2 separate regions of the Homo sapiens genome follow, and region 2 is linked to region 1. The links come from fine-mapping of genetic effects on gene expression. A gene starts in region 1. The other region holds a variant in brackets. All regions are shown on one strand. Distances are between the middles of the regions.

The links.
Region 2: its variant is fine-mapped to the expression of PCDH1 in whole blood (INTERVAL, PIP above 0.99).

The regions. Positions count from the first base shown.
Region 1 is chr5:141,874,494-141,882,812 of GRCh38, reverse strand. PCDH1 (protocadherin 1) reads left to right here and starts at 4,403. Exons shown (of 5, transcript NM_032420.5): 1 at 4,403-4,590. The coding sequence starts at 4,551. RefSeq lists enhancers at 1-375, 4,405-5,154, 5,421-6,105.
Region 2 is chr5:141,846,666-141,854,984 of GRCh38, reverse strand. It overlaps PCDH1 (protocadherin 1), which reads left to right. Exons shown (of 5, transcript NM_032420.5): 5 at 549-1,895. The coding sequence ends at 943. Among named protein-coding and RNA genes, the nearest start is that of PCDH1, 28 kb to the left of the region's middle. RefSeq lists a silencer at 5,060-5,309 and enhancers at 4,960-5,516, 5,870-5,959, 6,075-6,631, 7,388-8,209. The variant G/C (reference allele first, on the strand shown) is at 4,910.

The sequences.
Region 1 (8,319 bases):
TTCTTGCACTGCACAGCCTACCCAGTTTCTATGGAAACAGGCTGGGAAGGCACTGCCAGGAGGCCAAGGCCACTACAGCTCTTGGGGGGAGGGGAAGATAGAAATGGAAAGAGAGACGCAGGAGGCGAGTTCTGGCCATTCCCGGAAGCGGGTGGAGATCTGTTGGGAGTGAGCCTTCACTGCCAGAGGGGTGGGGCAGAAGGAGAGGTGTGATTAAGTGATGTGACTGAGACAGAGTTGAGGGGCTCCTCCTCATTCCCCCAATTCCCAGTGCTCCAGACATCTAGACAAGCCTCCTCAGAGGGGAAAGTGGTGGATGAAGAAGGAAAAGAGACAGGTAGTACCAAGAGCTCTGCCCATTTCTAACTTATGTGAGGCTCTATCCTTTTACCCCTCCTGGGGACATGCCCACTTGAGAGGAGGTCTCCAGGGAACTAGAAGGCTCCCAAGAAGTGGGAGGGAAAATTGGAGTGCGGTGTGAGTGGTCAGGGATGTTCAGGAATCTCCCCTAGGAAGGTGAGCTAGAGGTGGGCAGAGGCCTCGGAATGTCAGCTACTTTTATGGTACCCCTCTCTGGCACCTCCACTGAGGAGTTGGTAGGGGGCTGGAGACTGTCAGCTTCCTCCCCTCTGTTCATCCCATCAGAACGTTGGGCTATGAGAAAACAAAAGTGGCCTAGTGGGGGTTGGGTGCACAGAAAGGGAGATAAGCCTAAGGCAAGAAGGGCCAGAAGAGGGGTGGGTGAATGAGTGAGTGCGGATGCTTGTGGCTAGGGCAGGGAGGGAGCTTCTTAGAAGCTTCATCTGCCAGCTCCTGGGAAGTGATCCCCAGCCCTCACCCTCTCCCGATGCTCCCACCTCAGGCAAAGCTGCCCCTTGGACAGGAACTATTGGAAATCTCAGAGTCCTGGGAGATTGTGCTGTGGGGGATTCCTTGGAAAGGGGCCTTCTAGGTTATCAGAACGTTCAGCAAAGCTTCCCTGGGGGAGAGGGGTAGTGAAACAGGTACCCTGGAGCCTAGGGTTTCCTGGATCTGAGCCATCGGCTCTCCCTGACCATAGTCCCCAGAACAGTCGTCTTGGTGTTTGCTTATTTTGGTTATTTTTTGATCAGATATTTTGGCACTGAGCACACTGCCTCCTGTTGCCATGGCAGCCGTGACAGGGGCTGAGGCACCGTGAGAAAAATACCAAAATTAATGAGTGAGCGAAAGTGCAGCCGAGAGAAAAACAAGGTTAAAAAAAGAGTTAAAACAGTAATGAAAACAGGCTTTCCAGCTCCACAGCAGAGCAGCTGCTGAGGCCTCCCCAGAGCAGCAGCCCCCACCCAGCCTAGAGCTCCTGGCATCTCCCAGACCTCAAGGCAGGACTCACTTGGCTTCCCCCACCCAGCTCGTCACTGACCCAGCAACAGCCACTTGGGGACCACCCTATGCACAACAGTAGATCAGCTCCAACAGTACATCAGCTTCCATCTCAGGTAGTATCCTGCCTCCCAGAACAGCTTGTCATCTCCTAAACAATAGAGTCTCAGCCACAGCCCCCACACAACAATGGTCCAGCAAAATTACCAGGAAATGGCCTCCTAGCTACACCCAAGCTTTAAAGTTATAGCTGCAGGCATCCCAGCTAGAGTCCAGCACACAGTAACAGCCCAACCACAATTCTGAGCAACAGCATCTTAGCTATAGCCAATCCCCAGTATGCTGTCATCACAGCTACAGCTCCAGGACCAATAGCAGCTCAGCTACAGTCCTATACACAACAGTAGCTCTGCTCCTATCCCAGGTAACAGCCTGTCTCCCAGGTACAGGCTCCTCGCAACAGCCTCTCATCTCCTAGGACCTAGGCAATGGATCCAGTTACAGTCCCATCTACATCATATTAACAGGGAACAGCTTCTCAGCTACAGCCAGTCTCAGGTGTGCCAGCCTCATATCTATAGCTTCAGGCCCAACAGCTTATCAGTTACAGTTCTCCCTCAACATGCACACACACACCCATATACACACAGCTTGGCGATAGTTTCTCAGGTAATCTTATTGGCTATAGCCTAGGCACACCAGCATCAGAGCACTGCAACAGTGTCCTAAGTACAATCAGAGGCAGCAGCCTTGGTGTTACAGTTCCAGGCCCTACAGCATCCTAGTTCACTTAGCCACAGCCCATCCCAGGTACACGGATATCACAGCAAGCACCCCAACCATTCCCATACCCAGCATCACCCTGGTTCCAATCCCTGGCCACAGTCTCAGCTGGAACTCAGGCACCATCAGTTTCAGGAGCCTCCCCCAGTGCTTCACTTGCCAAGCAGGTCCTCCTCCCACTTTGGTACAGGGCCAGAAGTCTGACTTCTCTCCTCTTCAAATGCCACCTCCCTTGCTCCCCAACCATCCTCCCAGTCCCTGCTTGCTCACCTGCCCTCTTTCCTGGGGAAAAAAGGCCCCAATTCTCATATCTACATTGTCCCTGACTCAGGGGCACAGAGCCCAGCCTGGCAGCTGGGGTAGGAGGGGCTGGGGAGCAGGGAGAAGAGTAGGCACACCCTGGTGCTGCTGCTGTGGCCCAGTTCTGCTCCTACCACTTGGTGCAGAATTTGAGTTTGATGGTGGTGGAGCAGGGAGGATGGAGGCGAACATCTGGGAGATTAGCATTTCCTGCCCAGCTCTGCGGCTGCTGATCCTGCTCAGCCCTGAGCAAGGGAGGAGAACAGAGGAGCCTTTGAATGGCTCCCAGCAAGCAGACTGGGGAGGGTTTGCTGCATTGGGCAGCGGGCACACGCTGGGGGCAGGGAGACCGGGGCAGCTCTTCTGTGGAAGATTTCTTCTCTCTGGGCCACTGATTCCCTCCTCGGAGCTGTGCTCAATGATGTGGAGAGTATGAGCTTTCTAGAGACAGAAAGAAGCTACTTACAGAACAGACCCACCCCCCTCTTTCACCAGATTACCCCATCTCCCATCTAGAGCCCTGCCCCTGGGCTCCTGGGGCTGAGGGATAGAGCAGAGCCCAGGTCAGAAAAGGAGTCCAGTTAAGCAGGGCTGCTCTGGGAGAGATCTTGGACAGACTTTGCTTGCCCTCTTAGCTAACCAGAGATTCCACTTTTACCCTGAAGAGCATCCCACCGAGAGAGGCCAGAGCTGAGAAGAGAAGGAAGTAGAAGAAAGAGGAAAGGCACAGAAGAGTGGTAGGAACAGGAAAATGGGGAAGGACAGAGATGGGGAGTCAGAGGCTATGGCAAAAAGAGGCCCAACAACTGGTCATCCCATAACAAGAGCCTTTCCTCACCCAGCACTAGGCCTGGCTAGGGATAACCTTCCTCATTCTTTTGACCTAGAACACTCTGCCTGGGCCTGCAGGCGAAGAAGGCAGGAGGTCCTGTTGAACTGGGACACTTGGTAGCCTGGGTTACCAAACCGCAAGCGCAGGAGAGGGAGTTCCCAAGCTACTCAGAGACCTCTAGATGGCGCCAGAGAGCCAGAGCTGAATGGGAGAAACCGAGTATTGGAGTGTGTGAGACACTGCGTGTGACACCGTGTGTGATTTGGTGTGAGTGTGATAGGGAGCGTGTGGCACTGCGAGGGCGTGTGACACAGGCCGTGACACTGCGCGGCCTCGCGGGGCAGGGACCCGGTGACTGTATAATGTAAGTCACTGGCAAATACGTGTGGCCGCAGCACTACGCCGTGCAGAGGGCAGGTGATCAGGGGACCCTCGAATAGCCTAAGCTCAGGAGCAGCACTTCGTCTTCACGCTTGTGTATCTTCCCCATCCTCACTCTAGAGCCCCCGGGTCCCATTAGCCTCCTCCTCCCACGGTCCCCTCCATAGCCCCACCCCCACGGCTTGCTGCGGCCACCGAGGCTGACCGCTCTGCGGCTTCGGCCGGAGGGGGAGGGGTGGACTTTCCCCGAGCGCAGCGGGAAGGGAGGGCCACACAGGGCGATCGGGGATCTGGGCGGGAAGAGGGTGGATATGGAGGAGCAGGTGCCCAGGGAAGAAGGCGCTGTGGGAGACACTTCCCTTGCCTCGACTTCCCAGGGGGCAGACAGAGCTGGGGACAGGTGTTTGAGTAGGGTAAGGAGGGGAATCCAGGAGCGGTCCTAGATGGAGGCTTGGGTGGGATAAGTGTAAGGTGAAGCTCAGAGGAGGGCACGGCCTGTGTACTGGGCCTCGGGCAGTGAAGAGATGGCAGAGGGAGGGGTCCAGGCTTTGGGGAGCGGTGCTCGGGGTCCCCTCCCAGCCGGACCGGAGCGGTCCCGAGCTCCACCTCCCGGCCGGAGGGGGGGCGGGGAGGCGGGCGGGCCGGGAGGGAGGGGGGAGGGAGGGGGCGGGCCGGGCTGTGCGCTCCGCTCTCTGCTGGCTCCGCCGCCGCCGCCGCCGCCGCCGCCGCCGCCGCCGCCGCCTCACACACTCGGGGAGCGGGAGCGCGGCGCGGACGCAAAGCCGCCGGGCTGCTGCGCCCAGAGCCAGCCGGAGCCGGAGCCGGAGCCCGAACTGCAGCTCCAGCCCCAGCCGTGCGGAGCCGCAGCCCAGGCCGGGGCCGGCGGCGGCTCATGGACAGCGGGGCGGGCGGCCGGCGCTGCCCGGAGGCGGGTAAGGATCCGGCGGCGGTGGAGGCAGCAGCGGCTTGGGGCCCGAAGCGGTCATGGCCGGCGGGAGCTGAGGGAGGGGCGCTCGGCGGAGCGAGGCCGCGGGGGCCCAACACGAGCTCGGCGCGAGGGGGCTGAGGTGGGGGCTGCTGGGAGCCCATAGCAGGGGATGCGGCTGAGGGATTCCGTCCTCCCAGGTCCGCGGCGAGAAGCCGAGGGAGGGGAGGGGGTGCTGAGCAGAACCCTAGTCCCCGCGTCCCAAACCTGGGCGCGCTCGGAGAGACGGGGATAAGGAGACTCCAGGAGCGCGCGGCGTGGAGGATGGGTTTGGGGAAGCGCGCGGCCCCCAGTTTGGTGGGGGTCTCCCGGAGGACGGAGCAAGCAAGGACCGTTGTCCACAACACATACATACACACTTGTTGGGCAACTACCTCGGCTCACTCAGCCGCTTCCAGCTTCTCGCGGGCACCCAGAGGGCCAGACCGTGGACATATATACACACATACATACATCCCTGCATATGTGCACACAGACATACCTCCCGCACACCAGCGCCCACTGGGGCACCGTCGCCAGCTCAGAATCCGCTTCAGTGTCTGCACGATCAGCAGCACCGACACACAACCCGTGGCTTTACAGAGCAATAACACAACCGGGTGTGACACCCCGCGACGTGGACACACAAACACAATCTCGTGCCCTCATGTACGAGTGTCACAGCCACAGTTCACTAGATGAACCCTCAAAACCTAGCCACCCCCCACATTCCTTTAAGGAACACACCCTAGCATATATCATCTTACCCACTTCTTGGCCAGAACATAGGTACACAGCACAGGTCTCCTTGCACCCCTCTACTGCACCCACACAAACACACAACCCAGTATCTCAGCACACGCTTGATGGCACACACTCTAACACAGGAATTGGCACCTACAGCAGCGCCTCACGGTCACAAACACAGAATCCACTGCTTCACCCATCTTAACACTGGGTGTCACACACACCTTAAACCAACAGTGTCACATTACATTACACCCTGCAGCGCATACACACAAACACACACACTCCGTTCCTCTCTCTCGGAGTCCAGATTCAGGCAGGAGAAGCCGCCGGGGTCGTTCGGCGAGCCCCAAGCGCCCCGCCACGTTAATCGCGACATTATTATTGTAAATATCGGCACAGCGGGAAGGCTGGGCCGGCCTGCCGGCTTCCCAGTCGGCGCCTCCCCAACCCCCACTCCCGGGCCGAACCGGCTGGTGTTCCGGGAACAAGCTGGACCTGGCTGGCCAAGCCATCCCGCCTCCCCGGAGCTCTGGGGCCCCAGGTTCCTTTGTAGAGGGTGCTAGCCTGGGACGGTGATTGCGACCCTCTTCCAGCCATTTAGCTGAGTTTTCTGAGCCACCTGGGTCTCCAGCACACCTGGGTCCCACACACCTTGGTGGGTCCCGCACACCTGGGTTCGTCTCACACCTGAGCGCCCCCTCCGCCTGGTCCCCGCTGTAGGCCAGTGTGTGCGCGGGCAGGCCCTGGAGCCAGAACGGAGATCGCGGCAGGCATAGGAGCAGAATTTGTAGGCGAGGTGGTCTCGCACCCCTTCCCCCCAGCTACCCTCTGTAAGTCAGAATTCTGGCCTCAGTTTCCCCAACAGTGGTCGGCTACTATTTCTTCTGCCAGGAAAGACTGGGGGCGGCACTGAGGCCTTGGAGGATTGAGCGTAGGGCAAAAAACCCCCTCTGCTCGCCACGAGAGGGTCGGTTTTATGAGAATGTCCCCGCCTAGCCGGGTTCGCGGCTTTGTGATTCCGGCGCCGGCTCCCTCCCCGCCCCCTCCTGGCGCCCGCTGCGCCGCTCGCGCCGGCTCCGGCTTGCGGGGGACCCTAGGCCGAGGCCGGAGATGCCGGGGAGGAGGGATTCCCCGCGGTGGCCTGGGTGCGGGGGGCGCAAGGGCTCCCCCCACTAGCCGAAGCGCGTTCTCACCACGCCGCGCCCTAGCCTTGCCTTGGGTTCCTGGAGGCTGGGCGCTGCCGGGGTGGGGGTGGGGCCGCCAGAGCCCAAGAAACTGCCGCCGTCCCCCCCGCCACCCCCTAATCTCCGCAACACACACACACACTCGGCGTCCTCTGGGAGGAGTCGCTCCGCGCGCTGGGTGTGTGCTGGGAGCGCCCGCTGACCAAGGCGGTGCGGACTGGGGCTGCTTGGGTCGCTTCGTGCAGGAAGACGCCGCGAGGCTTCTAGCACCTGCTCTGGGTCAACCCTCGGGAGCTGCCAGGGAAGGGGCCGCCCAGAAAGTTTTTATGACAAGCCGGAGGTCTAGCTGTGTTTGTAGGGGGTGGGGGGCGCGGGAGTAGGTGGGTGTTACTTTATTGACGTTAAGGTCTGGGGGAATTGGAACCTGTAATTACAACTAGACTAGGGCATGGGGTGGAATCGAGGGGAGAGGCAGACTGGCCCCCAGAGGTAGCCAGAGGCAGTGTGATAGGGAGGCAAGTCTGGATTCAGTTCTGGCCGCATTTAGTTTTTACCCCTTCTCCTACCCACCTCCAATTCCCAATTCCAAAAGGGACTTCAGCTGGAAGTGGGTGTCTTGCTGGTCTGCCATCTTCTTAGCAGAGGGGCTGCTGCTGTGGCTACTTCTGCAGGGGAGCTGGGCAAGCGATAGTAAGCTAATTGCTGAGAAGGGGGTTGAAGGGCCAGGAGGGGGCCGCGAGGGTGGGGGAGGAGCTAAGTGGGAATCAGGGTTCGGGGAGGGGTGTAGGGAAAGAAGAAGGTGAGGGCTGCCCCTGCCGTGAGCAAGGATAGTTGGTGCAGAGATTCTGTTCAACAATGTATTGAGCACCTTTTATCTGCCAGGGTCCATGGTGGGTGGTGAGGATGCAGTAGTAAGAGACATACCATCATTGCCTTCATAGGACTTACCAACCAGCGAGGGGATTGGCTTGTTTATTCATCGAACCAAGGAGCACCCACTGTGTGCCCGATGCTGGAAATAAAATGGTCTATTCAGCAATTAGAAGACTTAGAAAAAAAAATGATTTGTCCTTTACATGTAATGTAAATAGACCTTAATGTAATAGACCTTATAGGCATGAGATCTCATTTAATTCTCCCAAATAATTTCAAGAGGCAGGTTTCATTATTTCCATTTCACAGTATGGAAACAGGTTCAGAAAAGTAAATTCACTTGGTTAATGTCACACAGCTAGGAAGTGGTGGAGCGAGGGTTCTAACCCCAACGATCTGACATGCAGGTGCCCAGAAGCCCTGCAGAGGCTAATAGAGGGTTGTGGGAGAGAGGGGAGAGGAGCTGAGGTCTGCACACTTGCTCTCTGTGGGAGGCTTCTGTTCAGCTCCACCCCACGCAACCCCATTTTCTTCCCCTCTCCCCGCGACAGTCCGTTTGTCCCTTGGTGTTTTGTGCCCGCGGCAGTGACCGTTGTGTAACAGTGCTGGGGTGAGGGTGGGGAGTCAGAGCTGACCTGGCTACTGGGACAGTGGTGGCTGCCTCTGTGTGTTTTTTCTCTGGCCACAGCACTCAGCAAAATGGACCTTGGTCCCCGGGGTGGGCTGGAAGTGAAGTTTCCGGGTGAACTCTCACCTCTGTTCTCATCCCTTCCCAGATGTTGACACAGACAGTATTTCCTTCAGCTTTTCTGGGACTCCGTCCCCTCCTTATCCCTTACTCCTACACCCCTGACGGCACTTCTGCTCCTCTATCTGAGGGACATGGGTCC
Region 2 (8,319 bases), 28 kb after region 1:
AAAAAAAGGATAAGGCTGGGTGCGGTGGCTCATGCTTGTAATCCCAACACTTTGGGAGGTCAAGGTGGGTGGATCACCTGAGGTCAGGAGTTCAAGACCAGCCTGGTCAACCTGGTGAAACCCCATCTCTACTAAAAATCCAAAAATTAACCAGATATGGTGGTGGGCGCCTGTAATCCCAGCTACTCGGGAGGCTGAGGCAAAAGAATTGCTTGAACCCGGGAGGTGGAGGTTGCAGTAAGCCGAGATTGCGCCATTGCACTCCAGCCTGGGTGACAAGAGCAAGACTCCATCTCAAAACAAAGAAAAAGAAAAAGAAAAAAGATAGATTATGTGTGTGTGCGTGTGCGTGTGTACAGTAGGCCAGTAGGTCGATGGTGGGAGGGCATGTGTCTCTTTGAGGGTGTGTGTGCCTGTGAGTTCAGCGGTCAGGAAGGGGCGCATACTCCTGTCCTGAGGTGGGGTGTAGATGCCAGTGGGAGGCCATGAAGCAGAGCTTTGCAGAGGCTGTATGTCTGACAATTGTCCTTCCCCGCTCCCTCCTACAGACCTTCGCCCTTTGCCTGATGTCGCCATGACAGGCACATGTACCCGGGAGTGCAGTGAGTTTGGCCACTCTGACACATGCTGGATGCCTGGCCAGTCATCTCCCAGCCGCCGGACCAAGAGCAGCGCCCTCAAACTCTCCACCTTCGTGCCTTACCAGGACCGAGGAGGGCAGGAGCCTGCGGGCGCCGGCAGCCCCAGCCCCCCGGAAGACCGGAACACCAAAACGGCCCCCGTGCGCCTCCTGCCCTCCTACAGTGCCTTCTCCCACAGTAGCCATGATTCCTGCAAGGACTCGGCCACCTTGGAGGAAATCCCCCTGACCCAGACCTCGGACTTCCCACCCGCAGCCACACCGGCATCTGCCCAGACGGCCAAGCGCGAGATCTACCTGTGAGCCCCCTACTGGCCGGCCGGCCCCCCTCCCCCAGCCGCCGGCCAGCTCCCAAATGGCCCATTCCAGGGCCTCACTCTCCACCCCTTCAGCGTGGACTTCCTGGCCAGGGCCCCAAGTGGGGGTATCACTGACCTCATGACCACGCTGGCCCTTCTCCCATGCAGGGTCCAGGTCCTCTCCCCTCATTTCCATCTCCCAGCCCCCAGGGGCCCCTTCCCCTTTATGGGGCTTCCCCCATCTGATGCCCAAGAGGGCTCCTCTGCAATGACTGGGCTCCTTCCCTTGACTTCCAGGGAGCACCCCCTCGATTTGGGCAGATGGTGGAGTCAAGGGTGGGCAGCGTACTTCTAACTCATTGTTTCCCTCATGGCCGACCAGGGCGGGGATAGCATGCCCAATTTTAGCCCTGAAGCAGGGCTGAACTGGGGAGCCCCTTTCCCTGGGAGCTCCCAGAGGAAACTCTTGACCACCAGTGGCTCCCTGAAGGGCTTTTGTTACCAAAGGTGGGGTAGGGACGGGGGTGGGAGTGGAGCGGAGGCCTTGTTTTCCCGTGCTGCTCCTGGACTGGCCCACCTGCCTGCCACATGCCCACGCCTAGTCCCATCTGGGCCCCCATTCCCTGCTGGTCATGCAGTGTCTGTATATAAGGACCTTGGAATGACGTCCCCATTTCTGCCTGATTTGCAACTTTTCTTGTTGATGTCGTGTTGTCTTGGGGGACCCCTCTGGGGGGGGACCTGCCCTGTGCCCCCTCCTCCCTGCCGCAGTGCCCCCCAACCCAGGCCTCTATTGTTCCATGTTGTAAATACCCCTGGGGCCATGGTGGGATGGGGGTGCAGGCCAGGGAAACAACGGGTGGGTGGGGGTGGGGACGGGGGTAACATTTGCCTATCAGCAGAGCTGGGCTTTTATTTAATTTTTCTTAAAAATACAAATCTCTATTTTTTTGGAACTGTTGCGCTGTGCCCTGGGGGGATCCCCGCTCAGGCTGGCCTCCCACATCCAGATGAGCATCACAGAGGGGCCCTGAGGCTGTGGGGGGCAGCTGGACAGGGGTGGGATGACTGTGCCTCTGGCCTGGTTGGGTGAGTTGGGAGCAGGAAGGTTTGCTCAGGGGGTGGCTGGGTGCTGCTCCCGATATAGGGGGCCTGCATCCTGCCCCCTCCCTGCCCTCTCAACCCCCAGCCCCTGCCATGACTGACCCGTCAGCCTGTAAAACCACCATTGCCTTGATCTCAGGGGGTGGGAGGGCTGCCTCAGGGCACCCTGGGCTCCAGGCCCCCTTCTTCCAGTTGGGCTTCCCTTTGTCAGGGTCAGGGGTCCCATGGGGGAGGGGGTAGGGAGGTTGGGGGGCAGAGAAGCCCAGTCAGCCATGATGAGGTGAAGTTCTCTTCTTCACCTCAGGGGGCCAGGGTGTAAGGGGCGTCCTGCAGAGCCCCCGTCTCCCACTGTGGCCATCTCAAAGCCTCAGCCCCTCTTCCTTCCAGAAACCCCCACTGCCTTGGCCCATACCTCTCCAGCTCCCTAGGGGCCCAGGCTGGGAGGCTGGAGACTCAGGGTATGGCCCTTGCTTGACTTAGTCTAAGCTTGGGGAGGTGGTCCAAGATTGCGAGCGGTGGGTACAGGCTGCGGGGTCGTCTGGTGCCTTTGGGAGCTGTGCTGCTGGGGTCTTGACTCTTGTACCCCAGAGACCCCACCCCCACCCCGGAAAAGCCAGGGGCCTGAAGAATCACCCTATTTATCTGCCCCTTACCCCCAACTTGGCTTGGGGTGACAGTGCTAGGAAGGAGAGCATTGTTAGGCTGGTAGCCCTGGCATACGAAGCCCTTCTACAGAGGGGAAGGGGTAGAATGGGATGGGGTGGCAGCAGCCAGGTCTAGGGGTTGGCCAAAGGCTCCTTTCCCTTGGGGAGGCCCAGGAGATGGGCTTGGGGCTTGTTAAAGAGACAGCCCCTTTCCCCTGCACAAATGGGGCAGGTGCAATAGTCTTGGAGTTGGTAGTATTGGGTGCCCAGCTGGTGGAACAGTGGCCTCAAGGATTGTCCTGGGTCCTGGAGGTCAGGATTCGGGCAAGAAGATTGTATGAGGCCCATTTGCTTGGTGGAGAAGGTGGTCCAGACAGGCGGCATTCCTGGGGTCAGTGGACTCCCACTGGAAGCCCCTAGTGGCCTGGGTACCTTGCCCTGGTCTTAGAGACCCCTGAGCACTGAGCAGAAGAGCAGAGGAGCATTTTGCACAATGGAGAAGCCAGAAGAAAGAGGGTGGCCCAGATGGCTGGGAGAGCTGAGAAGCCCTTCCCACAGGCAAAGACAGAGCCCCCAGCCCCCTGGTTGGGGCCAGGGCACTGAGTCTGTCACCAACTGGGCACTGGAGAGATGAAACCAAAGGTGGGCAGGGGTTGGCGACAGCACTGGGGACTATCCCTGTGGGTCCTAGGTCTGTGAAGCCCCTCCCCAATGCCTGTGTCGCGTACAGTTTTATGTACCAATAGGCGACATTTGGCCAGAGGAGAGCCCCCCTCAAACCCAGCCTGACCCAGTCTGTGTCTTCCCAGAGGGGACCTAGTCGGTCCCCATCCCCCTACTTCAGGGCATGTCTCTCCGTAGGGGGAGGGTATATGGGGACATATTTCTCTCCTAGGGTCCTTGAAGCATGTTTCACATTCCGGGGTGGGGGGAAGTTCTCTGGGCATCCCTCACCTCTGGGGTCTCTCTAGGCCCTATCTCTCCCCTTGGGAGTCTCCGGGGGACATGTGTTCCCGCTGAGGACCACGGGAGCATGTCTCCCCCAATTACCCAGGCTCTCTGGGGAGCCTGTTTTCCTCCCAGGGTTCCTGGGAGTACTTAAGGCAAGTCAGTTTCGGGCCATCTCTCTTCCCAGGGAAGGGGGCTATCTCTGAAACACGTCTGGGAAGGGATGTTTCTGGCCCTACCCCCATCTCTCCTATGGGGGTTTCTCTGCCCTGCAGCACTTTAGGATGAGGCTGGGCATCTCTGAGTTGTCTTTTCTCCTAGGAGCCCTGGGATACCTCTCTCTCCCGAGGGTAGGGCCTCTGGAGCCATTTCTTCCCTGGGTCGGGGCTGTCTCCGGGTGTTGGGAGGGCTTGTGTTGGCCATGAGAAAGTCTCTTAAGGGGCGTCTCCACTGGGGACTTCTCTGGGAGGGGGGACTGTGTCCCGCCCATGGGGTTTCGGGCGGGTGTGTCTGCCCATGGGGAGGGGAGACTGTGTCTCCTCGGGTTATCTAGTGGGGAGGGGGGCCGTGTCTCTCTCGTGTGTAGGGGGGTGGGGGTCGGGGTGGGGGGTTTTGGGCGCGTCGGGTGCCCACATTGGGGTCGTGTTTCTCTTGGTTCGTGCCACTTCCCACTGCCTCGCTCCTCCCGGGAAGGGCCCCCGCCCCGCCCCACCCCACCCCATCCCTGGCGCTGCGAGCACAATCCCGTTGATTTGTAATGATTTCTGTCTCTTTCTGTCTTTCTCTTTCTCTGACCCCCCCACCCCCACCCCCACCCCCCCCCACCCCGCCGCGAGCATGCGCAGGCACCGCCCCTACCCCCTCCGGTTCGGTTCGTTTCCGGTTTGTTTGCTGAGCTGTCAATGAAAGACCCGTGTAATTATTCCCGAGCTTTACAATAAAAGTGTGAAAACCGGACCCCACTCAGCTTCTTCCGGGTCCTCGGGCCTGCGTCCCGTGGAGAGTGGGAGCTAAATCTGGAGGCCTTGGAGAGGGCTGGGGGACGCGAGGGACAAGAGACTGAGACCCGCACTGGTATTAATCGGGGATGGGGTCGAGCTGACGCGTTCTGAGGATAGACTCCTAGTCCGTACACCTCAAAGTGACCCCTGCCGGATCCTCTGGGCCCGACCTGCTGTGGGCACCCCCTCCCCGCAAGAACTCAGGTGCAGGATGGGGTGGGAGGTGACCGCAGGAGAGGTTTTGTGCTGCGCTGCCTTCTTCCCCGGGCGCCC[G/C]CAGGACGTGCAGTCGTTCCCGGGTGTATCCATTCCCGCTCCCCACTCTTTGGCAACGAGTGTGAATTGCGGAACTGGATAGGATAAGGGGCGGGAGACATCTGTCTGTCTGCCGCGTTCTCCCACGCTCAGGAACGAGGGTTGGAAGTCGATTTAGGGGAAAGGAACCGAAAAGGTCTCAGCCTCGGTCTCCGACTGCGCTCCCCTCCCCCCTTCCGGGCTCGACCGGCCCCGGCCTCCTCCGTCCGGCTCCCGGGTAAACACCCGCTCCGGAGAGGTCGGAAAACAGAGACCGGATCAGCCGGTTCCTGGCCCCGCCTCCCGGGGCGTTGCTCCCTCCTCCGCCCCTCCCCACCCCCACACCCGCCCAGCGTCGCGCGCTTTTGCTCGACCCGCGCCCTAGCTCCCTAGGCCGGTACTGTGTGGGCCTCGCTCCGGACCCCGGGGTCGGTCCAGCCGCTGGGATTAGCCGACCGCAGGGACTAATCCCGGATGAGCCTCGTGTAAACCCGGATCGACAGCGGGGACGGCGGGGGTTGCTGGCACCCCTTCATCCGTTCCCAGACGCGGAGCATCACGGGGCATAGAGCCCACCCCGAGGCTCCTTGCTGCTTTCGGAGAGACCCGAGTTGGATCTGCAGTTGGGGGCGTGGCGGGGCAGGAGATGAAGAACGCAGGGCCGGGATCTGACGCGCCGAGAGCCTGGCGCGGGGTGACTGGGGTGTGGGGCGGAAAGGCAGAGATCTCTCGGGCAGTACTTGAATCTACCGGCTTAGGTCAGCTCCCTACTCAGTCTACAACCGAAGCCCCCTACCTATCCTCCAGTTACAGAATCACAGACCCTCCCCCTACCAGTGGGTGTGGCAACCCTTCCTAAACCTGAGGCCTCACCTCATTAGGAGAGGCGCTGAATCAGCGGGGGAGGGGCCCGCATTGTCTCCACCCCTGACTTGACCCCACAGTGAAGGGTGAGGAGTTCCTTCTGTTAAGGCCTAGCCCAGGAAAAGATGTCTGGAGTTAAGGAAGTTGGAGGAGATGTGGTGGCCGACTGGGTACCAGAATCCTGTCACTGGTTGATTAACTCATTCTACAAACATTTCCTGAGCCCCTCCCATGTGCCAGACCGGCACAGGGTACTGGACCCCAAGAATGACACACAGTCTCTGTGGGAAAGGCAGACAGGTAAACAATGACCACATCTTGTGTTCGGCCCTGCCTTGAGCCGGAAATTCTGGCAGGAGACCTAAAGGCGCTGTCCTCTCCAAAGTCTAGAGGCTTTCTGGAAGGGGTGGTGCCAGAGCTGAGTTTCAAAGGGCAAATGAGGGATAGGCTACTGAGGAAGGGGTCAGCCTTGCAGGCTGAGGAGGAGTATGTGCCAGGGTCTGGAGGTGGAGGAGGAGGTGAGGTGGCTCAGGAGGGCAGGAGAAGTTGGAGAAGAAGGCAGGGGCCAGAACTAAGGACCTGCTGGTCAACTTAAAGTGCTTGGATTGAGGGGTTGGAGAGGAGCCATTTACAGATTTTAAGCCTGTAAAAGAAAAGGTCAGATTTACATTCTTCCAGATTCTGTGTTCCTCCCTTCCCTGCCCCAGGTTTCTCTGGGGATGCCTGGGTTGGGAGTGGAGATACACAGGCAGACAGGAAGAGGAACCAGGTGCAGTTTAGGCTGGTTAAGAATGGTCCCTGGCTGGTCGCGGTGGCTCACACCTGTAATCCCAGCACTTTGGGAGGCCGAGGTGGGCTGATCACGAGGTCAGGAGTTCGAAACCAGCCTGGCCAACATGGGGAAACCCCATCTCTACTAAAAATATCAAAATTAGCTGGGCACGGTGGTGCGCACCTGTAATCCCAGCTACTTGGGAGGCTGAGGCAGGAGAATCATTTGAACCCGGGAGGCAGAGGTTGCAGTGAGCCGAGATTGTGCCACTGCACTCTAGCCTGGACAGCAGAGCAAGACTCCATCTCGGAAAACAAACAAAAGAATGGTCCCCACTTTCCATCAAACTTGGAGTCAGAGAGACCTACGTTAGAAATTTGGCTGTACTTATTTCTAGTGGCATGACCTTGGGTAGGTGGCTGAGCCTCAGTTTCTTCCTCTGTAAGGTGGGGATAATAGTGCTTACCATCACCAAAGGTTATTGTGGGGCTTCAATGAGATAATTTGTCCACTTTTTTATTTATCACACGTCTAACACCTACTAAGTGGCAGGCACTGTCTCAGGTGCTAGCATTATGGTGCTGAATAAGACAGGCATGATGCCTACTCTCTCTCTCTGGGAACTTGCATTCTAGAGGAAAAGACAGACAATAAACAAATAAATGAGATAATTATAGATTGTGTTAAAGTGCTGTGAAGGAAACAAACAGTGGGACAAGAAGGAGGATAACTGGAGGTGGGGGAGGGGAGGGGGCTGCTTTACCCAGCCAGGGAAGCTTCCCTGAGGAAACCTGAAGGTTGGCCAGTGTACTCCAGCCTGGGCAACAAGGTGAGACCCTGTCTCAAAAAAGAGAAAAAAAAAAATAACCCTGAAGTTTTAGAGCTTGGCAAAGAACATTCCAGATACAAGGAAACTGCAGGGAAATTGCCTTCAAAGGCCCTGAAGTGGGAGAAAAGAGCATAGCCACAGTACTCTAAGATGCTAAGATTCCTCAGGGCAGTTACCTGGGTTTCTTTTCTTCTAACCTTCTGGGCAAAGTGAGTAGAAATGGAGGGGAGTTGGCCGGGTGTGGTGGCTCACGCCTGTAATCTCAGCACTTTCGGAGGCTGAGGCGGGCAGTTCGAGACCAGCCTGATCAACATGGAAAAACCTCGTCTCTACTAAAAAAAAAAATACAGCCGGGTGCGGTGGCTCACGCCTGTAATCCCAGCACTTTGGGAGGCCGATGCGGGCGGATCACGAGGTCAGGAGATCAAGACCATCCTGGCTAACATGGTGAAACCCCGTCTCTATTAAAAATACAAAAAAATTAGCCAGGCTTGGTGGCGGGCGCCTGTGGTCCCAGCTACTCGGGAGGCTGAGGCAGGAGAATGGCGTGAACCCGGAAGGCGGAGCTTGCAGTAAGCCGAGATTGCGCCACTGCACTCCAGCCTGGGTGACAGAGCGAGACTCCGTCTCAAAACAAACAAACAAACAAACAAAAAAATTAGCCGAGCATGGTGGCGCATGCCAGTAATCCCAGCTACTCGGGAGGCTGAGGCAGGAGAATCGCTTGAACCTGGGAGGCGGAAGTTGCGGTGAGCCGAGATCACACCATTGCACTCCTGTCTGGGCAACAAGATTGAATCTCGGTCTCAAGAAAAAAGAAAAAAATGGAGGGGAGTTTCCATCCTGCTGGGCCAAACCCCTTCCCCTCCAACCCCATCCCCTGGAGTAATATTGGGGAGATGTGGGCTTCATCAGTCAGCCCATCTG